Linked DNA regions of Homo sapiens: regions 1, 2, 4 and 5 are each linked to region 3. Evidence: fine-mapped expression QTL. A gene starts in region 3. Each other region holds a variant in brackets. All regions are shown on one strand. Distances are between the middles of the regions. Region 1 overlaps C12orf75 (chromosome 12 open reading frame 75). Region 2 has its middle 45 kb from the start of C12orf75-AS1. Region 3 holds the start of C12orf75 (chromosome 12 open reading frame 75). Region 4 holds the start of LOC105369957 (a long non-coding RNA gene). Region 5 overlaps C12orf75 (chromosome 12 open reading frame 75).

Region 1 (5,105 bases), 26 kb before region 3:
ACTTCTTCAATTTCACAACCATGGAGTCAAACGTTGGTGCCGACGCAGGGGAAGAGAAACTAGCCCAAATTACCAAGGGATCAAGGGAAATCTGGAAATAAGTACGTGGCACATCAAGACAAATCCTGCTCTTGCTAGGGGAGCTATGCTAGACATTAAGTCCATTAGAGAAGTGAAAGGGGAAGGAAGACCCAAGGGAAGGGACTGGAACCAAGTGCTGGGGTTTGGTCGAAACATCATCCGCTTTACAGCTGTGCCCAGAGCCAATCTTAGAAGGAAGACTGACTTCTGGAGTCCAAAGAGTGCTGGAGGAAGCCAGTACTAAAGGATTTACATTAATTTACTGAGCAGTGATTCCATTTTCTAGTTGCACACGAGCCACTACTCTAAAGAATAAACTTGTGTAATAAGCTTGTTTTTCCAGGGTAAGCATGACTGAAAACCTATCGGTAAATTGCTTTCTCTGGTATCAAGACAATGTTTTGTTTCTCCTCATCTATACCATTTGAAAAATTTGTGGAAAGTAATGCAACATTTGAAAAAATGTAAGACTGAAATATTTTTTAATCATAACCTCAAATACCATCTTATCAGGAAAACCCTGTATTTATTTATTATTATTGTTTTGGTTTTTTTCTGAGACAGGGTCTTGCTCCATAGCCTAGGCTGGAGAGCAGTGGCACAATCATAGCTCACTGTAGCCTCAACCTCTCAGGCTCAAGCGATGCTCCCATCTCGGCCTCCCTAGCAGCTGGCACCACAGGCGCACACCCCGCACCTGGCTAACATATATGTTTTTTGGTTTTGTAGAGATGGAGTCTCACTATGTTGCCTAGACTGGTCTCGAACTCCTCAGCTCAAGTGATCCTCCCACCTTAGCCTCCTGAGTGGCTGGGACTACAAACACGTGCCACCATGCCCAGCTATAAAACCTTTTAAACCACAGGAACGTTCCCTAAGAACCATAGAACATGTATTCACCAATTTGGACCAGGTTTAAAAAATACACTGAGCCCAGCGCAGTGACTCACATCTGTAATCTCAGCAATTCAGGCAGCCAAGGCAGACAGATATCTTGAGCCCAGGAGTTCAAGATCAGCTGGGGCAACAAAGGGAGACCCTGTTTCTTCAAAAAATACAAAATAAAATAGCCAAGCATGCTGGCTTGCACCTGTAGTCCCAGCTACTCAGGAGGCTGAAATGGGAAGACTGCCTGAGCCTGGGAGGTCGAGGTTACAGTGAGTCATGATCGCACCACTGCACTCCAGCCTGGGCAACAGAGCAAGACCCTGTGTCTGTCTGTCTGTCTGTCTGTCTCTCTCTCTCTCCTCTCTCTCTCTCTCTCTCTCTCACACACACACACACACACACACACACACAGAAAATACATTGGGCATTCAACTAAAATCAGGTCTCCTTTTGTTAGCAAAAAAATGTAGCTTCTTTTATCAAAGAACAGGTGATCAAGGAGAAAGAATGAGTCGAGGTTCAAGCCACCCGTTGAGTATCATAATCATCTCCTAGCCTAAGGTCACACACTTACAGGGCTCTGAGTCAGACTTTCAGTCATAGCATTAATAAAACTGTTTGCAGAAACAAGTGTTATTCAAGGTGACCCCCGTAACTCATATTCTCCCCACTTTCAACGTCTTTTGGGATTGTTGAAAAGATAAATCCTCAGTTGATGGTTTAAACATGACTCACTCTTGTAGAGTAAGATACTGTTTAGTGATATGTACCTTATCAAAGTTGGCTTGACACTCGGCATGCAAGAAAAAGAAAGAAGAAAAGAAAAAAAAGCAACTGACCAAAGGCAACCACTGCAACTAAGATTACAGATGGATGGCTTCGGGTTTCCTCTGTCTCAGAGTTTCTATTAATTCCACTTCTAGCTCACTTCCTGTGAACTTACTAAAACCAGCCAGGTGCTCTTCTTACCCTTCTCAGGGTGAATAGCAGTGCTGATCCAGATTCTCTAGGTAGTTATGCATCCTTCTGTTTTATACTAGGGTCACAGACTTTTTCTGAATGAACTGGAGACATTGAATGTCTCTCTAATCATAAATAAGCTCTGTCTTCTTGTAGGTCGGGGTTCTGGAAGGTGGGCTGCCTCCAAAACGACCATGTCTCTGTGGCTGCTCTTTGGGGTGGGTGGGCTTTCGCCTACCTGGCCTTTTTTTAAATTAATGTATTTTTTGCATGCCTATTTAAAACCAAATATCTGCATGGAACACCTCAACCTTAC[A/G]ATCATTTTAAATTACTATGATTTATCTTACCAATAACTATCACTTTCATTAAGTGAAACCTTATTCAAAGTTAATACATAAAATATGAATCTTTTTCTTCCTCAGTAATATATGGTAGTCAAAATCTTTCATCATTACATTTACTTAGTTTCTGGGTTGTATAAAATAGCTATCCCAAGTGACCTAAAGATTTTAACAGTGAAATAATGGAACCATGTCATGATCAAGGACAAATACAGATGACAAATATGAGATAGCAGCCAGCCATTTGAAACAGCAGCTCCCAAGTCATCCTTGCTACAACTTACCTGAAAATTCAGAAAGTTCTCACTTCCCTTAGGCTTCTAGAACTAACAAAGTTATGTGGCAAAGAAATGATTTATTTTTTACTTATTCATCAAGAAAAATGTTCTAAATATACAGCTATTCTTATTAGAGATGATCTAAAAAGCAAAAAAAAAAAAAAAAAAAAAGCCTGTAGTCTTTTCTTTTTCCCTATTTGCAGTGTCACTAAAGAGGCTAAACTTACTTTGACTCGTAAACAGTAAAAATTGAATATGGAAACCCTGGAGACCATGGCTCTCCTGATCTGTTTCTAGTTACCATTCATGATAACCTTCTGGAATAGGTTTATTAATTGATTGTGTTTACTTCCATCTACACTACAATTCTCCAGATAAAATATAATTATTTAATTTTCTTTATAACATGTTTTCATGATGGTTCCTGCTCCTTGGGGTGGTTTCAATCCATTCTAGCAAACCCTTAATTACACAATGAATTATGTTTTACCATTGGCTGTTTTGGCCTATGTTTAATATCATTCATTTCTTTCCAATTTCAAAACTTCTTTGGACTGTTTTCTTTTGATCTCTCTCCCTGGATGAGCCCATTGGCCAATATTAGTCCCTTTCTTTCTTCCAGAGTGTATGACTGGAGAACATGAGTAACATTCACTTCAAAGGAATGCTTTCAACTTCTCTTTATCCAGAAGCAAGAGATCAAGAGCCAGACTGCAAATTCCCTGTCCTCTCTAGCTCTCCTCCCCCCAGTTATTCTCTTACTAAGGGGCACACAGTGTTAGGAATTATTTCAGAATTGGTTGTAAAAATATCATTTGCTATAAGGCAAGGGTGCACTCTTCATCTCCTTACCTTAAGAAATTTGGCTTTTCCTTGCTGGCACCACTTTTCTCAAAACCTCAAGAATATGCATCTTGTTCTCACCTACCCTAGCTTCTCCTAACAGGAGACAGAGCCAGCATGCTCCTCATCTCCCCACAGAGCTCTTACAGGTGGGGCCATTTCATTTTCACTCAGAACCTCTCCTCTCTGGAGTCTAAACCCTGCCATAACTGTCCCCAGAGCACCAAAGATTTTGACCCTGACCCAAAGTTTTTCTTTCTAAGCACCATTATCTTGGTCAATTTAAAACTCCATGAAAATGGCCACGTGCAGTGGCACACACCTGTAATCCTAGCACTTTGGGAGGCCAAGGCGGGCGGATCACAAGGTCAGGAGTTCGAGACCAGCCTGGCCAATATGGCAAAATCCCAACTCTACTAAAAACACAAAAATCAGCTGGGCGTGGTGACATGCGCTTGTAATCCCAGCTACTTGGGAGGCTGAGGCAGGAGAATCACTTGAACCCAGGAGGCAGAGGTTGCAGTGAGCTGAGATAGTGCCACTGCACTCCAGCCTGGGCAAGAGAGCAAAACTCTGAAAAAAAAAAAGAAAAAGAAAAAGAAAAAGAAATTCGTGAAAACCACCCATCCAACCTCTCACCTCATATTTTGCTGACTTCCTCTATCCCAACAACTTCTGTGCTGCTCCGCTAACATACTCCGATGGCTGCTCCATGGAGTATAGTTCCTGGAACTATTTTACCACATTTTAGAGTAGAAAATCCCACTCCCTAGGGAGGAAAAAAAAATCCTCCTTTCGATAGTCCCATCATTCCCAAGAAGGCTGCTTTCTTATTGCAACATCAGCTCCAGTTCATCCATCCCTCCCCGTCCTCCCTATCCATCAGCCCCTCGTGTTTCCCTTCCCTCTCTCCCTAGCACATGTCTTGCAGTCAAGTATTTCTGCAGCACTTGCTGGTCACCACCTATTCCTCTCCATCCCTGGATGAATCCGTCCATCTGCTCTCTCTCTTCCTGCTCCTATTTCACAGGGTCCGACCTAAGGAAAATCTCATCATGGCTACCAATGGGAATATATGATTTCTAACCACAGCAAGGCCCTCAATATGCTGGGTCTTCTGCCATCAAGTATTCATGTCAGAGGCCCTGCCAAATTTTTTCAACAACATTTTAAACTAACTAATAATTCTAGCTGTCATTCACCGGGGGCAACAAGCATAATGCCAAGTATTTTCCTAGGATATTAAATATACTGTATTTGTAATCTGTCCCTCCAGCAGCTACTTCAGCTCTCTGTGCTCCCCACCTCCTCACTTGTAAAATGAAACATCATTATTCTGTCCATCAGATTATCATGGGTATGGAAGGAGATAACGTACAGAAAATGCTGGAAATCAGTGTATGGTGCACAGTCCTCAGTAAAGATTAGCTACTACTGTAAGAATGATGATGATGAAGATGATCACCCTGCACAGTTATTATATTATCCCAATTTCACAGATAATTATACTAAGGACACAATGTAACACAGCTAGCAAATGGTGAAGGGGATTTTAAACACAAGTCCCTCTGCTTCCAAAATGCAGGCTTTTTCAATGCTACTTCAACCCCATCCTCTTCACCCTCAGAAGACAGCGTTACCTTCTACTACATGGATGAGAAAAGAGCCCATCAGATACCCTAAGGTCTGTATCTATGAGGAGCAGAGAGGGCTC
Region 2 (5,105 bases), 48 kb after region 3:
CTAATTCATTTGAACAACTGAAAGCAGTGTATGCTGATTGCTGTTTTTTAAAGAAAATTAAAAGAAAATTGCTTGTGTTAGAGAGTATTTCTTAATAATTAAGAAGTGATTTCTCAATCTCAGAAGTAGTACAGCAGAGGGATTTAAGAGCTCATGTTTGCCTTTTGCTGTTTTGCATTTTAAAAACGCACCCAAATTAAAACCCATGTGTAAATTGTTGGGCTTTTACATGTTTTTTGTGAAATTAATCTTTGTTAATTAATGACCATGTGCCTTACCCCAGAAAGAAGGAAGGATTCCATCATTTCACAAAAATTCCAAAGAGCCCTGGGTAGATGTGGAGCTGAAGGCACCCATCCCTCTCAACTCCCCAGCCTCCCAGCATCCTGAACCAACAACCCAACAACCCAGCTTCTGTGACTGGCACCTCCAATCCACTCAGTTGCACAGATCAAAACTGTGGGAGAGATTTTTGGTCTCTCTCTCTGCTTCACCCACCACATCCAATCAACCACAAAGTTCTTCTCAGCGAAGTTCCTATATAGACATGTCCATATTTGATATCCTCACTTTCCTACTTCCCATTCTGTATTCAATTTAGTCCAGTTGGGTTATTATCTCTACCACTTCTCCATTATCAAGGTCATTATCAAGATGTAGATACTCTACATCTAGCCAAAGCCTAGTTCCTTTTTCATTACCTTTTAGTTAACCTCTCAGCAACAGTTGACCATGCTGTCACTCTTGAAAGTCTTTTCTGAGCCTTTGTAAGATCACTCACCTGGACTTTCTCTTAACTCAGTGGCCACTCTTTCTCAGCCTTTTTATTTTGTTCTTCCTTTCTGTAAGGCTTCTATCTTTTAGGTAGCTCAAATTTCTATCCTTGGCCCTGTCTCTTCTCTACATTCTCTCCCTTGACTTCAAGTACCATCTCTATATTTATGATACTCAATTCCCAACCCCCCAATTCCAGAATCATATATCAACTTGGAAGTCCAGTAGGCATCCGAATTTTGTAGAACCAAAACAAAGCTATCTACTTTTCTACTCCTCTCTCTCCCCTACCAGTCAGCCCCTTACCTGCTTCCTCACTAAACCTTCCTCTTTTTGGTAAATTGCACTGTCATATTCTCAATTGCTCAGGTACAAAACTTAGAGCTTATTCTGATTTTTCCCTCACCCTAAAATCTTGCATCGAGTCCAGCCATGTATGTTGCTGACTCAACCTCCAAAATAGAACCACAACCCTACATCTCATCACCCAAGTTGAAACCATGATGTCTGGCCTCATCTTTGCAGCAATCTCCCAACGAGTTCCCCTGCCTCCACTCTTACCCTTACACAGTCCATCCTCCACACAGCAGCCAGAGGAGAGATTAGACTCCTTAACTTCTCCTTCTGGGTACTGCCAATGGTTTAGCATTAACCTTATAGTGGCATCTCATTGTGGTTTTGATTTGCATTTTCCTAAGGATTAGTGATGAATCTCTCTGTGCTTATTGGCTATCTGTGCATCTTCCTTGGAGAAATGTCTATTCAAGTCCTCCAATTAAGTAAATTAATTACAGTACATTAAAGTAATTAAGGTCCATTTTTTAATTGAGTTGTTTGTGTTGTTGAGATGTAGGAGCTCTTTATATATTCTGGATTTTAACCCCTCACCAGATACATGATTTGCTATTATTTTCTCCCACTCGATGGGTTGCCTTTTTCACTCTGTGATAATATCGTTTGCTGTTGTACAAGTTTTCTATTTTGATGAAAAACTATTTCTTCTTTTGCTACCTGTGCTTTTGATGTAATATGCAAAAAATCATTATCCAATCCATGTCATGAGGTTTTTTCCCTATGTTTTCTCCTAGGAATTTATTAGTTTGGGGTCCTACATTTAGGTCTTTCATTCATTTTGAGTTGATTTTTGTGTATGATCTTAGATAAGGATTCAACTTCCTTCTTTTGCATGTGGATGTCTGGTTTTCCCAGCACAATTTTTTGAAATCTGCTCTTTCCCCCATTGAATTATCTTAGCACCCTTGTCAAAAATTATTTGGCCATGGCCGGTCATGGTGGCTCACGCCTGTAATCCCAGCACTTTGGGAGGCCGAGGCGGGCGGATCACGAGGTCAGGAGATCGAAACCATCCTGGCTAACACGGTGAAACCCCGTCTCTACTAAAAATACAAAAAAATTAGCTGGGCATGGTGGTAGGTGCCGGTAGTCCCAGCTACTCAGGAGGCTGAGGCAGGAGAATGGCATTAACCCGGGAGGCGGAGCTTGCAGTGAGCCGAGATCGCGCCACTGGACTCCAGCCTGGGCCACAGAGTGAGACTACGTCTCAAAAAAAAAAAAAAAATTATTTGGCCATACAAGCAAGAAATTATTTCTGGACTTCCTATTCTATTTCACTGTCTTTATGTCAGTAATCTACTATTGATTATTGTTGCCTTGTAGTAAGTTTTAAAATCAGGAAGTGGGAGCCCTCCATATTTGTTCTTTTTCAAGATTGTTTTGTGTATTTGGCGTCCGTTGACATTCCATATGAATTTTAGGATGGGCTTTTCTATTTCTGCCAAAAGTATCATTGAAATTTTATAGAAGCTGCATTGAATCTATAGATTGCTTTAGATGGTACTGCCATCTTAACAATAATCACCCATGAACATGGATGACTTTCTATTTAGCCAAGCCTTCTTTAGCTTTTTTCAGCAATGTTTGATACTTATGTACAAGCCTTTCTCCTCATTAGTTAAGTTTATTCTTAAGTATTGTATTCTTTTTTATGCTATTAAAAAGGAAATTGTTTTCTTAATTTCACCGTTGGTATAAAGAAACAGAATTTTTTTTGTGCATTGACTTTGTATCTTGCAACTATGCTGAATTCATTCATTAGTTCAACACTTTGGATTTCTTAAATGAAATCTTTACGGTTTTCTAGATATAAGATTATGTCCTCTGTGAACAAGGGTAATTTTACTTCCTTTCTGATTGGTACTGTTTTTATCCTCACTTTATAAATTATAAACTGAGTATATCAGATAAGAATGCATTCAGTTGTACATAACAAAATTTACTGGGGCTTGACAAATGAATTG[C/T]TTATTTTTCTCACTGAATAAGGAGTCCAAAGTCCAGAGCTGATGCAGAAACTGCACTATACAATTAAACTACTGGACTCTAAAACAAACAGCAACAACAAACAACTACCAGGCTCCTTCTGTTTTCCCTTCCTGCCTTCTTAGCATGTTGACTTTCCTTTCCAAGCCACAAGGTGGTTGCTGCCCCTCCAGGATCATGTCTGCATCTAGGCAGGAAGAACAAGGAAGGATTTTCTCCTCCTAAGGATCTGCCTTATATTTGGTATGGATTATGTTCCCGACTTACCTCAGCTGACTCGCCTTTCCATCTCTCTGGTCATACCTGGGTTGCAAGCCCACCTTTAGACTAATCGCTGACCAAAAGGAATAAGATTTCTATGAGTATTTTTGACCAATCATGATTCATATCCTGGGGCTGGGATAGGGTATAGGAATACCCGAGGTCAAGGGACATCACACTAATATCAGAACAGATCTGTGTTCTGTTAGCACCAAAGAGGGCTTTTGGCAGGTGATATCAGTGGAGCTAAGGCACAGAGAGGTCAAGTGATAGACCCAAAATTCAAATTCAGACGGTTTAAAGCCTGCTCTCCTAACCAGATCAACAGAGGAACAGAAGGTTCTGTGCCCAATAAGCCAAACTGAGTTAATGATTGAGTAGCACTTGTTATCCTAGGACACTAATGAGAGTGGGGATACCAAAAGGCAGAGATATCAGAATCCCCTGGAGGCCTTCCTCTAAACTATGGCCTCTCCCCAGAAAGTTTGCCGTGATCCCCAAGTAAAAGTGTGGCCCACAGCCAACCCTCATTGGAATCAATGTAGTCTGAGTCACTGTTAACAATGGCTTTGTTGAATTTGGGAGGAGGGAGGGGACTAAGAACCACTCTGATAAGAAATATGCAAACTACAAGAATTCAGTTTTATGTCCTTTAACTGGTTTTGGGCGATTTGCTTTTTTCATTTTGTATTCTGATACTATTTCTTTAAAAAAAAATTCTGAGTCTTTGTTAAATTAAGTGGAAAAGGAATTTGTCTCTACTGAGTCTCGATACTTATGAAGATGTTTTAAAGAAGCAAATGTCTAAATATTAACCACTTTAAGTCCTTTTCTGGAGCAAAACAAATAACTAGTGTGTGTGTGTGTGTGTGTGTGTGTGTGTGTGTAATTGTTTCTGCATTTAGGATTGCTGAATTGAGATTTAGTTCATGCAGTTCAATTCAACAAACATTTACTAAGTGCCCCATACAAGATTCTATACTGGTTACAAAAATGAGTAGTTTTGCAAAAAAAGTTCAGGGAAATCTGTAAGTCCTTAAATTTGTTTGCAAAATTCCAGGATATTTGCTTAAATGATACATATATCAGTAAAGAGTTCTTCTTAACCTTCATCAGATTCTTAAGTGCTTCTGTGACACACAAAAGGTTGACCCACTGATCAGAATGGTCAGTCCCCAGAGGTGGGATGTGGCCACAGTAGTCCTTAGGCAGCAACAAGATGCATTACAAGGTGGGTGGCATTACTTTGGTTCCAGGAGAAACTTCCCCAGGGATGAAGGAAAATTCTAGCCACTGGACATAGACAAGAACATAGTTCAACCCCCGAGAGAAAAGGCTAGTGCGAGTTCAGCCACACAAGTCATGACTTACCTCTGCCAGTCAGGCCAGACACACAGGGTGGGTGATTGGAAGGCTAGAGTTGGATAGTTCCAGTGGTGCCCAGGGAGTCACTCAGGCTTAATAAATGCTCATTTGGGGGAACGGCAGAAATTCTGTTCTCTACTTGCTGTGCAAATGGGCGCATTTTATGTGCTATCAGGCTTGGTGAGCACTGACTTAGGAGCTGAGCCCATGGGTTGGAAATCTTAGGTAGAGCACACCCTTGGATCGCTCTACCTATTTCCAACCCATGGATTTTTAGTGGTGGTTGGCTTGTAGTATGGCGGAGATGCACAGAAAAATCTAATAACTTAATTACAGATAAGGGCTATTGTACTTGAGTTATTTGATTT
Region 3 (5,104 bases):
TTTTGGCAAACAGCAAGCTGGAGGAGAGAATAGCATGCTCTCACATGCACTGTCCACAAACAAAAGTGAGGCTGCTCCTCAAACTACTCTTTCGGTAGCTTTTTTTTTTTTTTTCAATATGACTTCCCTTTAGGTGATAAGAGAGATGCTCCTAGGGAAAAAGTCAATCAAATATTCATAAAGATAATCATATTTCCCCAAGAAATCATATTTTCCCCCCAAATTTGATTTTTACATTAACATTTTAGAGCTAGCTCATCATACCTTACCATCTTTCTATTTTCTTTTCTTTTCTTTTTTTTTTTTTTTAGATGGAGCGGAGTTCCACTCTTGTTGCCCAGGTTGGAGTGCAATGGTGCGATCTCAGCTCACTGCAACCTCCGCCTCCCAGGTTCAAGCAATTCTCGTGCCTCAGCCTCCCAAATAGCTGGGATTACAAGCAGGCGCCACCACGCCCAGCTAATTTTGTATTTTTAGTAGAGACTGGGTTTCACCATGTTGGTTACACTGGTCTCGAGTTCCTGAGCTCAGATGATCCACCCACCCCAGCCTCCCAAAGTGCTGGGATTACACAGGCATGAGTCACTGCGCCTGGTCCATCATTCTGATTTTCATTTGGCAATGGTACCCCCTCCCCATCCCTAAAACTGACAAGCAGTTCATTAATAAATCAAAATGTACATGCATGAAACTAGCCTCATTTTAAGGGAAATCTGCTACAAATCCTTCCTACAATTTTTTTTAATGTGGATAACTTTTCTTCACCTTTTTTAAGTAGGCTACACATGCAGTGGATTGCATACGGCCACAGTACCTAGTAGACTGAGACACAATTTGAGTGCGGGGTGTGGCCCTGACATTGTTTCATACAAGCAGAGCTTTCTGGCCACAGGCAGGTTTGAAGCCCGTCTGCCCTCATTAGCATAAGGTGCTACACTAACCTTCCCCACTGTTAAATGAATCTAAAAAGTTCGCTCTCCTGTGGCTCTCTGCATTGTCACCAGGACAGGATTTAATTCAAGACTCAAATTGAGTCTTAAACTCCATTTTTTACCGGCGTCTGGGTTAAGGGATGTGACAGGCCCAAGGTTACAAAGTCATTGCCAGGGCCTCCACAGCCGCCTAGGAAATACCGCAGCCTCTGACTGCTGTTTGCATTTGCTGGTTAGGCTAGGATGTGGCATCTGGTTGACTTCAATTGGAGGAGATAGGAGCTCTTTATCCAAAAGGACACTGAAATAGGTCAGCAGTTATTACTCAAAACAGATCCAGGGTACCTTAAATCCCGAGACATAGGCAGGGTGAAATAGAAGGGTGAGTTTTGGCAAAAGTCACTTGACACAAAGCCTGGCTGGCCCGGGGAAGCTAGAAGACCTTGCCTGCCAATCAACATGAAGTGGTATAAAAAGAAGTTTCTATTTGTGTGTGTGTGTGTGTGTGTGTGTGTGTGTGTTTAATGAAAAGTATCTTAACAGACTGTTAATAATAAAGCTCTGTCTCACATATGTAAAACATCCTTACTGCTGCAGCTTCTCAGAGAAATCCTAAGAGCAGCCCAGCCGGTCTTCGGCATCAAGGCAGACACAGATGCGTTTTTGCAGCTCTGCTTCTAGTTCTCCCCAACCCCACTCCCACCCTTCCCCGCTTCCTGCCCCACCACCACTGCCCGAAAAGTCCTGTCTTGCTCTGCTGCACTTTTCCAGGTGCAGCGCCTTGGTTCCGAGGAGATGGGGGAGAGGCCTGGAGGAGCAAGTGTGGGAGGTGGGGGAGCGGCCGGGGACCACGTCCGGGAATCCTCTCCCCCAGGAGAGCCCTGAGACCCGCCAGCTGCAGGTGAGCCCCGGCGGCTGCAGGGGAGCCCGCGACAGTCCTCCCCGCGCTCCCTCGGCAGAGACGCCCCGCAGGCTCGACTGCTCCAGGCGCAACCGCCCCCGCGCGGGGGACTTGCCACGCTTTCGGTCTTTCCAGAAACGGGCGGTCTGCTCCTGTCCCGAAAATGGGGACGGGGAGAGGGGGCTGCGCGCCCCCCACCCAAGATCCCTGCACCCTTCCTTCCCGCCGCCTCTCCCGCCCGCCCCCGCCGGCCCCCGCCTCCCGCCGGACTCACCTTGGCCCGCGCCCGCGCTGGTGGCGGTGGAGTTCCCGCAGCCCATCGCGCAGCCGGCCGGGGAAGCCGCGCTCCGGAGCTCTCGGCCGCGGGTCCTGGGGGCGGAGACCCAGACGAAGGGCGGCGCACCCCGAGCGGGAGGCTGACGGGGCCGCGAGGGGCCAGGAACCGAGTGGGGGCCGCCCCCTCCCACCGCCGGGAGACGCGGCCCGGGGCGCAGCGGGCTGCGGGCTGCCGGGCGGAAACCACCCGGCACCCCTCGCCCCGGCCCCGCCCCGCCCGGGGACCCGCCGGACCCACCCGTCGCCCCAGCAACCTCGGCACTGGCCAATCCCCAGCCTCCTGCGCGCTTCGCGGTCGGCCATTGGTCGTTATTACGAGGGGCGGGAGTTTAAAGTGGGCCCCGGGGCGAGGGAGCGGCAAGGGGCGTGGCCGGCGCAGCGGGGTGGGGGTGCCCACCTGCCCACCCTCAGCATCCTCCTCGCCTTGTCTTTGCTTTTCTTTCCTCACTTCCCCTCCCTGCCCCAGGATGTGGGGAGGAGAGGAAGTAGCAGGGGGCACCCTGCACAGTGGACGCCCAATAAATGCTATTGACTGAATGTTGTGCAGGTCTGAAGCCAAAACCGAAATCCCCAGCTGCTTTAACAGAAGGCCAACGCAGCTCTGTTCCCCATACGCACTGCCTGGCAAAAGTTCTTCCCCAGATTGGTCATCTTGACCTATTCCTCTTTAAAACAAATGTCTGCAACGATTTCAATAACTTGGATTCAGGACCTCCTCTCTGATAAATGAGAGAACTGTGGATGGGCACGGTGCTGTACGTTTCAACATGATAGTTGGGCCAGCGTTACTGCAGTCAGACTGTCTGAGTTAAAGTCTTCGTTCTGCCCCGTGATAGCTGCGTGACCTCAGGAAAGTAACTTAACCCATTGGGTACATCCCTTGTTTCACCTATAAAATGACAGTAACTCAGGTACATATAAAGTACCTAACAAAGTTCCCTATCTTTAGTAAATATCAGCTATTATCATTATTATTATTAACTCTAATAGAAATGAATACAAATTCCTTAAAGGGAAAGACTATCTGATTTTTCATAGCGTCCTCCTGGCTTGTAATACAGACTCACTAAATGTTTTGTGAGGTGACTTCAAGCCAGGAATTAAAGCTCCATTTTAAATTCACTTAATATTTGTAGGGAGCCTAGCCTGTGCCAAGTCCTTTGTTAAGTTCCGGGGATACAAATATGTGGGAGACAGTCTAACCAGGCAGATAGATTAAAATAAATTAATTACAATATAGAAGGAATGTTAACAGAGGAATACAGGTGCCATAGAGTCCCAGAGGATGCTGGGATGCTAGTTAAAAGACTTGCCTAAGGCCAGGCATGGTAGCTTACACCTGTAAACTAGCACTTTGGGAGGCTGACACGGGCGGATCACGAGGTCAGGAGTTCGAGACCAGCCTAACATGGTGAAACCCTGTCTCTACTAAAAATACAAAGATTAATTGGGTGTGGTGGCATACACCTGTAATCCCAGCTACTTAAGAGGCTGAGGCAAGAGAATCACTTGAACCTGAGAGGTGGAGGTTGCAGTGGGCCGAGATAGCACCACTGCACTCAAGCCTGGGTGACAAAGCGAGATTCTGTCTCAAAAAAACAAAACAAAACAAAAAAAAAACAGACTTCCCTGAAACCATACTGTTGTGTTTACATAAAAATAAAAATATGAACCAGAATCAAGGACTTGGCAGGTTTTTGAACATGGCCTTTGAGGCAATGGTGCGTTCTATCATTCAGGATGCAAAATATACAGCATTCTCCATTTGAAAATTAGCTGTGGTAGCCATGTGCTGAGAGGATAATTAATTCTTGGATAAATAAAGGCATTTTTTAGTTGACTTCTAGAAGTACTGCTTCTCTACCAGCCTGTGCTGTCTTGGTTCAGTGTCCATCCTAATACATAGCCAGAACTGGGGAAAAGGGAACTATCAAGTAGCCGAAAGATATTCTCCTGCTTATTTCTGTGCTGACACTAGACTCCAGCCTTAGGACACTTGTAAGAGACAGAAAATGGACCTTGACACCTAGAAACTGGCCTAGAAGCTGTGACACTCAACAGCTGGGCCTTTGCATTCTCCTGTTAAACACAGTTGCATAGAACACCAATATCACACAAGGCCACTCTATAAACTATGAAATGAGACAAAAAACAAGGTGACTCGGTAATCTTGTCTAAGTGCTGACAAAAACAAGGTCATTGTGCAAACCCCCAAAACACCAAACATCTCCCCATCCTGCCTGATAGGATTGTCTGCTGCTGCTTTACCAGTTATGGTTTTAGCCCTGTTCTTGTCTTCCTGCCTAGAGATGAGGTTCATTAAGAATCTCTAATCATAGAATTGTCCCTGCTTCCTGACAATATCCAATGTAGAAAAAAAAAAAAGTTCTGCTTCCTTAAATCCCAACCAAAATCACCTATTATGAACCTAAATCCTGTAGGTTCTTTTCTAACACTCACTTACTGAGATATCTCATGGTTCCTCGTAGTGTGCATTCTGCCCTATAATGTTATAGATTATGTGATCTATCCATTATTTCAACAAGCACTATTGAGTATCACCTTAAGAGCTCCAGCCATGAGGACTTACCTGTTGGGTACAATGTACACTATTTGGGTGATGGTTACACTAAAAGCCCAGACTTCACCACCACCCAATACATCCGTGTAACAAAAATGCACTTGTACCCCCAATCTGTTTTTAAAGTGCCAGCCACTCTTCTAAATGTTTGAGAGACAGCAGTGAACAAGAGAGAGAGGAAAAATCAAGTGGGAGGAGATACATCAAAGCAAATACAATCAGATAATTTTAGATACAAGTGCGATGGGAAAAAATAAGTCACTGGAATAGGAGACTAGGAGTAGAGGGAGAGGTGCTATTCTAGATATAAGGTTGGTGCAAAAGTAATCACAGTTTTTGCTATTACTTTTAATG
Region 4 (5,095 bases), 43 kb before region 3:
ATTATATAATTGAGTACTACATTATCTAAGTGTCAGAGACTTCACTAATGGAGAAAGAAATTTGTCTTTTTTTTTTTTTTTTTTCTTTTTTTGAGCTAGAGTCTCACTCTGTCACCCAGGCTGGAGTGCAATGGCACAGTCTCGGCTCACTGCAACCCCGGGCCTCCCGGGTTCAAGTGATTCTCCTGCCTCAGCCTCCCGAGTAGCTGGGACTACAGGCACTTGCCACCACACCTGGCTAATTTTTTTTATTTTTAGTAGAGACAGGGTTTTGCCATGTTAGCCAGGCTGGTCTCGAACTCCTGACCTCGTGATCTGCCCGCCTTGGTCTCCCAAAGTGCTGGGATTATAGGCGTGAGCCACCACACCCAGCCAGAAATTTGTCTTAATGGAATAGTTTTGTGAAAAAAGACATAAGAAGCCGAGAACGGTGATGTACACCTGTGATCCCAGCTACCTGGGAAGCCAAGGTGGGTGGATTGCTTGAGGTCAGGAGTTCGAGACCAGCCTGGCCAACATGGTGAAACCCCGTCTCTCTACTAAAAATAAAAATAAAAAAATTAGCTGGGCATGGTGGTGCACGCCTGTAATCCTAGCTACCTGGGAGGCTGAGGTGGGAGGACTGCTTGAACCCAGGAGGTGGAGGTTGCAGTGAGCCGAGATCACACCACTGCACTCCAGCCTGGGCAACAGAATGAGACTCCACCTCAAAAAAAAAAAAAAAAAAAAAAGACATGGGAGAAATACGTGAAGCAACAAGATAACCCCAACATTGTCACAAACCTAAACCAAGCAGCTGATGATTATACCTGCTGCTGGGATAGGCATGGCCCTGCCCTAATGGAATGTTCCTGACACACTCATTGCCTGGCTACATCTACCCCGACATGATGCACCTGAAAATTCCAAGTAGTTTATATAATATTATAGATTAAATGGGAAAGCTACACCTTCATAAGACATGGAAAGTACTGCAAGTACTTATCATGCCTACTAGAGAGACAGACCCACAAACCAGGCACTGGAGGGGAAACTAAGACCAGTCATGACGGCCCTTAAGCACCTAAGCTCCATGACAGCTTCATTCCCCAGTGGCTTCTCACAGGCTTCAGAAGTTCAAAGGTGACCCTCCAGGCTCCACGCAAGCTCACCTTGCCTGCCTCTCCCATCCCATTACCATCACCTTCCACCCAGCCAGGCTCAACTCCTAGCATTTCCCAGGTTATGCCAAGAGCGTTCCAGGTGTCTCTGCACCTGTGGTTCTCAGCCTGAAGCTGCTTTCTTCCTTGATCTATGCTGGCAAACTCACACCTTCCCTATGGCTCTGCACCAGGGACTGCCCTCTGGGAAGTCTTCCTTCGTCCACCATCCTGACTTAGGCGTCCCTGCTCTGTGGTCCCGAAGCAATCTCTACCAGCCCCGGCCACTGCTCTAGATGTTCCTTACAGGCTACCCAGAGTATCCACCACTCATGTGAAGAGCCTTGAGTGCATGGATCGGGTCTTTCAGCTGTACCCCAGTAACCATTGCCCATCAGGGGCACAGCAAGAACTCAACTGGTGATGGTTGAGAAACAACGGAAAATCAGAACTGGGTACTGGGACAAAATCTACGAAAAGCACCTCATCCTTCTGTACTGCTTGAATTGATCAGGTGCATCAAGTATATGTAAATAAGTAAATGCAAACGATCTTCCTGGGAATGAGTTCCTTACATAACTTTTCCACACCAGAAATTCTTCCCACCCTTGGGCATGGATACAGTACAGATACACTAGCTCCCATTTGCAAAACTAAGCCTGTTTTCTCTTCCTCTTCAAACTCTTTTAACAATTCAAAAAACCAGAAAGGCAACTCCCCACTGTATTAACTTAGTGCCTTCTATCATTTTGCCTCTCTCCCCAGAGCCTAGTCCAGATCACTTTCCAACAGGCCAGCATTCTTCAATAGCACCCCAGAAGTCAGCTGTACTTGTCAAAACCAGAGTTTTCTACATTCCAGAGTTCCAAGCAGGTCTCCAAAACTAAATTATAGCTGTCTTCTTTAACTGAGTCTAGCAATGAGTGCCTTCTAGCTTAGAAGGTTTCTTAAGAAAACCTTTTTTATTCAGACAATCTTATCAATCAGAAAATCTCAGAAACTCATCTCTTCATTGTATTTTTCAATAATAATCTTGCGAAGAAACCATATATTGTTTGAAAAGGCATTAACTCTTAAATATCAGGCATTTTTAAGGCTTTACCCATCTCTTTTTCTTCTGAAATGTTTTAATGTTATTTATTCTTCTCTGAGTTCTTCACTCAAGTTTCTTGCAGTACTTATTAAAAATTATAGTCATTAGCTTTAAGATATAG[G/C]TTAAGTGGGTGGCAAGTAAGAATCACAAGGTTCTAAATTTTAAAAATGTCTAGTTGAAGAAAAATGCCAAGACTTATCACAATATGGAAATTACTATCCAGTTATGATGAAAAGTGATGAAGTTTTAGGAATGTGTTTTAAACAAACTTTTGAATTGGATTTTTATTTTAGAGGCCTGTTTGTTACTAAAAATCAACCAAAGGTGGAGGCAGTGGAGGTGGGGGGCAGGATGGAGCATGTCAGAGCCAACCTGAAAAAGCTCCCAGAAGCCAAAGCTGGAACAATTTGAGCAACAAAATAGCAAGAGTATTGGATTATAACCTAAAAGACAAAATAAATATCCAAAAGCCCATACTGATGAAAATGAATGACTGAATAAGTAAATGGGGGAAAAATGGACAAATGTTCCTTAGAGAAGAATTCCAAATAATACAGGTAGAGGAACGAGGGAAATAGAAAGTCACATTTTTATGCCACATAACAGATGCTGCAGACAACAGCCAAGGATGAACCTGAAAATTAGTGGGCAAAACTCTAAGGAGAAACAGGGTATTTGCAGAGTCTCAAACTATCTTCTCCAAATTACTTATTAATTACCGTGGTGCCTTTAAGAGTCCAAAAATTCCTTGATACTCTTTTCTCCAGGAGGTGAAGCTTGATTCCCCTGTCCTTGAGTGTGGTCTCAACTTAGTGGTTCATTTATCACTTATAAGGAGCAGGGGATGAAAACGGAAAACTAGAGGCCAGGTGCTGTAGCTCACACCTGTAATCCTAGCACTTTGGGAAGCCAAGGCAGGAGGATTGTTTGAGGCCAGGAGTTCAATAATAGCCTGGGCAACAGAGCGAAACCCCACCTCTACAAAAAAAATTTTAATTAGCTGGGTGTGGTGGCATGCACCTCTAGTCCCAGCTACTCAGAAGGCTGAGGCGAGAGGATCACCTAAGTCAAGGAGTTTGAGGCTGCAGTGAGCTGTGATCGTGCCACTGCACTCCAGCCTGGGCAACACAGCAAGCCCATCTCCAAAAAAAAAAATAAATAAATAAATAAAAAACTTGAAACTTTATCAAAGAGAAAGCTGCCAGATATCACCTAGTCAAGTGATGAAGGTCAATATCAGCAGTAATAAGTCATGTTGAGATCATGAGATATAATGATATGCTCTAATGAGGGGGCCACTTTACCTCTGTGGTCCTCTTCCCACCAATCTCTGTTCCAGAGACAGGGTCTTGTTCTGTGGCCCAGGATGGAGTGCAGTGGTGCGATCACAGCTCACTGCAATCTCAAACTCCGGGGCTCACGCAATCCTCCCACCTCAGCCTCCTGAGTAGCTGGGACTATAGGTGTGTGCCACCACACCCAGCTAATATCTCTTCCTAAAAATCTACAACCCCAGTCCAATCATAAGAGAACAGACAAATTCAAATTAAATGCACTACAAAATATGTAATCAGTAGGCTAAAAAAGTGTCAAGGTCATGAAAAACAAGGAAAGACGAAGAAAGTACCAGGAAGGGGAGACTAAGGAGACAAATGGAGAATAAGGAAACAGGATGATCAAGTGCAACAGAATGCAATGGAATCTTGGATTTGATCCTGAAACAAACAAAAAGGACATTAGTAGAAAAACTGATGTAATCTAATTAAAGGCTGTAGTTTATCACATTGTACCTATGTTTAATTTCTTCTGACAAATGTACTGTGGTCATGCAAGATTAACATCAGAAGTAGCTGGGTTAAGCGCATACAGGAACTCTTCATATAATCTTTATGTGCTTCTATGGATCTAAAATTTTTTCAAAATTAAAAGTTTTTTAAAAGTCAATCTGGCCAGGTGCAGTGGCTCACACCTATAATCCCAGCACTTTGGGAGGCCAAGGCAGGTGAATCACCTGAGGTCAGGAGTTCAAGACCAGCCTGGCCAACATGGTGAAACCCCGTGTCTACTAAAATTACAAAAAATTAGTCAGGCGTGGTGGTGCACACCTGTAGTCCCAGCTACCTGGCAGGCTAAGGCAGGAGAATCGCTTGAACCCAGGAGGCAGAGGTTGCAGTGAGCCGAGATCATGCCATTGCACTCCAGCCTGGGAGACAGAGCAAGACTCCATCACCAAAAAAAAAAAAAAAGTCAATCTATCTGTTATTCCTAATAGGACAAACTGCTGATATTCCACCTAAATACCATTATGGACTTATGAACATGAGACAGGAATGTGTGTATCAGGATAATTTCTTAGTAATTCTTAGCTTTGAAATTTTTTATCAATTTGATGTCCCTGTGGTTGTCATACAGACCAAATATATAAGATAATGCCTTTCTTCCTATGAAAAACTTTGGTTTTTCTTAGTAATCTACTTATATATTATTATCTTCATATGTTTATATAATGTATCTATACATCACAATGCCATGTGTGACTTTAAGTGTTCTTTTGAAAAATAATTAAGAAATGTAAGTGAAGAGGGATAAAAATGTTTTAATTGTTGAAATACATTGGTGAATTGAGTAACTTACATTGCAATACTAAGTAGATACACAAGTCATTATCAAATTAATTTCCAGATATCCCACTAACCATCCATCGCAAGTCCTTGAAAAGTTATAGAAATAATATGATGAGATTGTCGTGATGTAGAATGAGCAACCCAAACAGCTATGAAGTATTTGTAGTTGCACATGCCTTTCACGAAAGAAAATAAAAATGTAATCAAAATGTGCATATGGCATGCAAATTTGAGTTTAT
Region 5 (5,105 bases), 34 kb before region 3:
TTTCACACTGATCATTGCTAAAATTAACAAGAAATTAAAAATATGGAGCATAACCACAAATAAAAGCTAAATTATGCTCTGGAATTCTTCTTACCATGTGGGTGGCTATTTCAACCAATGACTGCAATGAACAGACAGTACTTATACATGGTTCACTGCAACCAATACATAGGTTGAGTCGAGTAAGCTGAAATATAAATTTCATGCTTTTTCATAAAACATAAAAATAAATAATTAGGGAAAATCAACAGCACATGATTTCACTTACTTTTCCGAACCGTCTTTGTTTGACTGGACACCATATTGACAGCTTCAGATGGTAGGCCAACATATACTCCTCCATAGTTTCTTGATAAAAAGAAATCAAACCAATTTAAATGGTACTATCTATTTACAGGAAGCAACAGAAGCACGGAGTACTCCAAACAATTATATAATTATTAAAATAACTCATGATTTTTCAAAAGTAGAATCTAGAATATTATGGCCCTTGGGAATATAATTGGTTTCCTAGGTTAAAAAGAAGCTATTTTTTTTAAAAAAAAGAAAGATGTATTGCGTTAGTAGAATTTTTAGATATTTTACTTGTAATGAGAAAGAAGAAAAGACTTTGGGATGTTACAATTTATTAGAGTATTAAATATCATACAGTGACATGTTACAGTTAACATTTATCAATAATTCAGAGTGGTCAACATGGTATGATATTAGGCATTATGGACACACAAAGATATCTTACTAATAGAGAGATACAAAATGAGGGCAGAGACAGCAAGAGAGAAATGAGGGTGGAGTGCAGTTAATCAGAGAAGTAGGAGGACAGGGAAGGCTGAGAGAATGAAGGGAAGTCATCCAGTTAGGGAGAAGAGCACACCCAAAGGTCATAGGATGAAAATTAGCACACGCCACATGCATAGGACAAAAACCAAGTTTGCTTGGAAGGAGCAAAGATGATGAATCCTGGGCAAGTTCTTTTTCAGACCATATGCCCCTACCTGTATTCTCTGTGCCAACAGTTTTCCTGGCAGAATCTGTGTTATTGGGAATATGCTACAGTGTGTTAAATCCATGAGGTATGGCCAAAACCATTCAAACTAAAGCCAGCTGCAATACCAAACATACCTCCTCTTGTCATCTTCTGTTACGGATTCTTCTGTTCTAAAAGGTCAGAAACATTTGCTATGAGACACTTGGTTACATAGTCGGGGACTTCATTTTTGGTTATGAGAAAAAGGGACTACTGAGTTGAAGTCAATTTTATTTCAAATGTTTCCATCAGACTTAAGTAGAGGAGCAAAACTATCCATCAAGTGTTTCTGTGACAATATTCTGCCTTCACCTCAATCATTCATACGTTAAAACTTGGTAATTTTCTACAAACCAAAATGTGTGAATCCAGCAAATGCCAAAATGCACAACTGCCAAATGAAATGGAAAACTGAGGGCAGCTGAAATTGGAAAGAAGCCTGAGTTATCGTCTTGTGTGTACCACCCACTCCCTGTGTGACAGACAGGCTGTGGGCGAGCTGCCAGCCTGTGTCTCATTTGTAAAATAAGCTGGTTGACCAGATGACCCCTCAGGTCTCTTCCAGTCCTAATACATGGTTTTAGATCTCTTATGACACTTCAGTGGCACAACTATAGGTACTGAAAGACTTCTTCAGTGCAAAAAGAGTTAATGCCTATTTGATTTTTTTTTATCTAAAAACATGAGCCATTTCATACATGATCTACTGCAAAGAGAGGGAGAAATATTTAAAAGGATACATTTAGAGGGGATCACTACTTTAAAATGCACAGCTTCTCTCCTTGCATTAAGAGGAATCCAAGCTGGACATGGTGGCTCATGCCTGTAATACCAGCACTTTGGGAGGCCGAGGCGGGCGGATCACCTGAGGTCAGGAGTTCGAGACCAGCTTGGCCAACATGCTGAAACCCCATCTCTACTAAAAATACAAAAATTAGCCAGGCATGGTGACGCCTGTAGTCCCAGCTACTCAAGAGGCTGAGGCACAGGAATCCTTGAACCCGGGAGGTGGAGGTTGCAGTGAGCAGAGATCACGCCATTACACTCCAGCTTGGGCAACAGAGGGATACTTGGTCTCAAAAAAAAAAAAAAAAAAAAAAGGAGTCCATATTCTACCAGAATTCCTTGGCGTATTTCTAAGAGAATCAGGACACTTTCCTTGAAGCACTAGTTGGCATACATAAGTTGCTTTTCTGAAAGAAAAAAAAAATAATTCAACAAGATTCCAATGTATCTGGCTGAATTCAACTTGTAACACTAAGGGGCTTCAGTTGAGCAAAAAGCAGACTGCAAACATCTAAATGTCATTGACTCTTCTGATTCAGAGATTGTCTAACTATGATTTTACCCACTTAAAAGCTGTGAATATTTCAAATGTGACTGTATATGTGCATGAGATTTTTGCTTTATTGCAACAGCCAGTAAGTCCAAGTCTATAAAGAAGGAAAGTGTAGATTTAATAATTATCTGGTGAA[C/T]GCTGGCCATGAACAGCTAATACTGGAAGAGAGTGCAAAATCCATCTTGAGACCTAATTCATCCAAACTGAGCATATAACCTAAATTCACTAGATGGTTATCAGCTTCATTTACCTCTTAACGCTGGATTGTTTTTTTAGTTCAAGTGTCAAAGTCATACTAATGGTGTTATGCTTATTGATGTGGTATAAGAGAGAGTTGTTCACTACTTTTAATTAAAATGGATTTATAATCCTTTAGCATAGATAATGGAGAAATGATGAGGACAAACTCGTTCAAGGTAAGTTCTGATAAGAACTGTTTACTTTGGTCCTGAGTGATTAACTTTCTCAAGAAATCACTTGAATCTGTATATAACTGGTAGCTTATGACACACATTTCCGGCCATGACTATTCTTTTCACATCCATTTACATATCCGTTTATTTTAATTCTTTCCCCTTTTGCTTAACTGTGCTTAAGGATATATTCAAGGTTTTAAAATATATTTTCACTTTCCCAAATGTAAGAAAATAGTCATTTACTTTCTCCTGTTAAATTACTCAATATCTTAAAACTCAATCTGTGTTCTCCATTATAAAATTAATCAACAACCTTACATGTATAACTGGCAGGAAATGATAATGTAGTTGCCATATTTATTGGATAATAAATTAAGCTTCAGATATAATGCCAAATCTTAAAAAAAATACTACCTATAAAGACTTATAAGATGTCCACTCTTTTTTTTTTTTTTAATTAAGACAGAGTCTTGCTCTGTCACCAGCCTGGAGTGCAGTGGCACAATCTCGGCTCCCTGCAACCTCTGACTCCCTGGTTCAAGTGATTCTCCTGCCTCAGCCTCCCGAGTAGCTGGGATTCCAGGCCCGTGCCACCATGCTCAGCTAATTTTTGTATTTTTAGTAGAGACGAGGTTTCAACATGTTGGCCAGGATGGTCTTGATCTCCTGACCTCGTGATCCTCCCACCTCGGCCTCCCAAAGTGCTGGGATTACAGGCTGAGCCACCCCGCCCGGCCAGATATCCACTCTTTTAAACCTTCCAGTAAGTTGTAAAGCCTGTCTTTGCATACTCACTCCCATGTATAAGACTGTCACTTCATCCATTCCTTCCACAAACAGTTATTCTACAACACTAGGACTAGAGACCAGGACTCCGTGGGTATAATGGTGTCATTCATGAGTCTCTCCTGTGTGTCAGGCACAGTGCAGGACACTGCACGTGCATCCATGCTATTCCTCACAACAGCTCTGAGGGCCTAGGCCTGAGGAACCAGGTGCAGAAAGCCATGTAATTCATAAACATACAAGACTAACAAGCATGACCAACATCCATACCCCATCCATCTGGCACCAAAGCCATGCTCCATTCTCATTCACCACTCTGCTTCTCAGGTAGAAAGATGTAAAAGTCAAAAACACTTCCTGTGAAAGACCAACGTAGTGGCTTCTCCTAAAGTGGGCGATTCACCTCCATACTGCTTTTGCAAAAGCTTTGACCATCATCCCATCTCTCAACCTGATTGTGTAACTATACTAGGCACTTTGCTAATCCTATTATATTAGTTCATTTAATCCTTATACAATCTTGCAAGACCAGTACTACTCACATTTTAAAAATGAAAAAACTGAGTAGCATGACCGAACTTACGAAGCTAAATCATAGAGCCAGAATTCAAACCCAGATTTGTGTGATCCTAATTCCTGCTTCATACACTGTAGGCCCATGCTAATTTGCATTAGAGAAACATGCACCTTCCCGCAGCTGGAGCTCTCCAATTTTTTTTTTTTTTTTTTTGAGACGGAGTCTTGCTCTGTCACCCAGGCTGGAGTGCAGTGGCGCGATCTCAGCTCACTGCAAGCTCCGCCTCCCAGGTTCACGCCATTCTCCTGCCTCAGCCTCCTGAGTAGCTGGGACTACAGGCACCCGCCACCACACCCGGCTAATTTTTTGTATTTTTAGTAGACAGGAGGTTTCACCATGTTAGCCAGGATGGTCTCAATCTCCTGACCTCATGATCCACCCGCCTCAGCCTCCCAAAGGAGCTCTCCAAATTTTTTTTTTTTTTTTTTTTTTTTTGAGACGGAGTCTCGCTCTGTCGCCCAGGCTGGAGTGCAGTGGCGGGATCTCGGCTCACTGCAAGCTCCGCCTCCCGGGTTCACGCCATTCTCCTGCCTCAGCCTCCCAAGTAGCTGGGACTACAGGCGCCCGCCACACGCCCGGCTAATTTTTTGTATTTTTAGTAGAGACGGGGTTTCACCGTTTTAGCCAGGATGGTCTCGATCTCCTGACCTCGTGATCCGCCCGCCTCGGCCTCCCAAAGTGCTGGGATTACAGGCGTGAGCCACCGCGCCCGGCCAGGAGCTCTCCAATTTTTATCATCCCACTCAAGAAAAGTCAGAAACAAGATTGTAGAAGAGTCCTAGTCTGTTTCATCAGCATGAGAAACAACCTCTAACTGCTGCCAGGGACCATCAATCTTCGCAGATCTTGTCAAATTGCCACATAAGTCATTTTTATGCAGGTACAAAGGTTGTTCTGATGAGCAGTTACATTAGAATCTATTCATCTGGACAACCAGGTCCAGACTAAGGTTAAATCAGA

The links. PIP is the estimated chance that this variant, and not a neighbour inherited with it, causes the effect.
Region 1: its variant is fine-mapped to the expression of C12orf75 in whole blood (INTERVAL, PIP above 0.99).
Region 2: its variant is fine-mapped to the expression of C12orf75 in pancreas (GTEx, PIP above 0.99).
Region 4: its variant is fine-mapped to the expression of C12orf75 in whole blood (INTERVAL, PIP above 0.99).
Region 5: its variant is fine-mapped to the expression of C12orf75 in whole blood (INTERVAL, PIP 0.98).

What each region holds. Positions count from the first base shown.
Region 1 is chr12:105,354,054-105,359,158 of GRCh38, reverse strand. The region is part of intron 2 of C12orf75 (chromosome 12 open reading frame 75); the gene reads right to left. Among named protein-coding and RNA genes, the nearest start is that of C12orf75, 26 kb to the right of the region's middle. RefSeq lists a silencer at 1,454-1,523. The variant A/G (reference allele first, on the strand shown) is at 2,246.
Region 2 is chr12:105,279,962-105,285,066 of GRCh38, reverse strand. No RefSeq gene overlaps it. Among named protein-coding and RNA genes, the nearest start is that of C12orf75-AS1, 45 kb to the left of the region's middle. The variant C/T (reference allele first, on the strand shown) is at 3,093.
Region 3 is chr12:105,327,941-105,333,044 of GRCh38, reverse strand. It overlaps C12orf75 (chromosome 12 open reading frame 75), which reads right to left and starts at 2,354. Exons shown (of 6, transcript NM_001145199.2): 1 at 2,108-2,354. The coding sequence starts at 2,153. RefSeq lists an enhancer at 729-1,272 and silencers at 1,929-2,028, 2,059-2,718.
Region 4 is chr12:105,371,232-105,376,326 of GRCh38, reverse strand. C12orf75 (chromosome 12 open reading frame 75) reads right to left here. Exons shown (of 6, transcript NM_001145199.2): 6 at 4,809-5,095. It overlaps LOC105369957 (a long non-coding RNA gene), which reads right to left and starts at 4,213. Exons shown (of 3, transcript XR_945302.3): 1 at 3,860-4,213. The variant G/C (reference allele first, on the strand shown) is at 2,354.
Region 5 is chr12:105,361,860-105,366,964 of GRCh38, reverse strand. It overlaps C12orf75 (chromosome 12 open reading frame 75), which reads right to left. Exons shown (of 6, transcript NM_001145199.2): 3 at 1,123-1,158; 4 at 269-348. Among named protein-coding and RNA genes, the nearest start is that of C12orf75, 34 kb to the right of the region's middle. The variant C/T (reference allele first, on the strand shown) is at 2,503.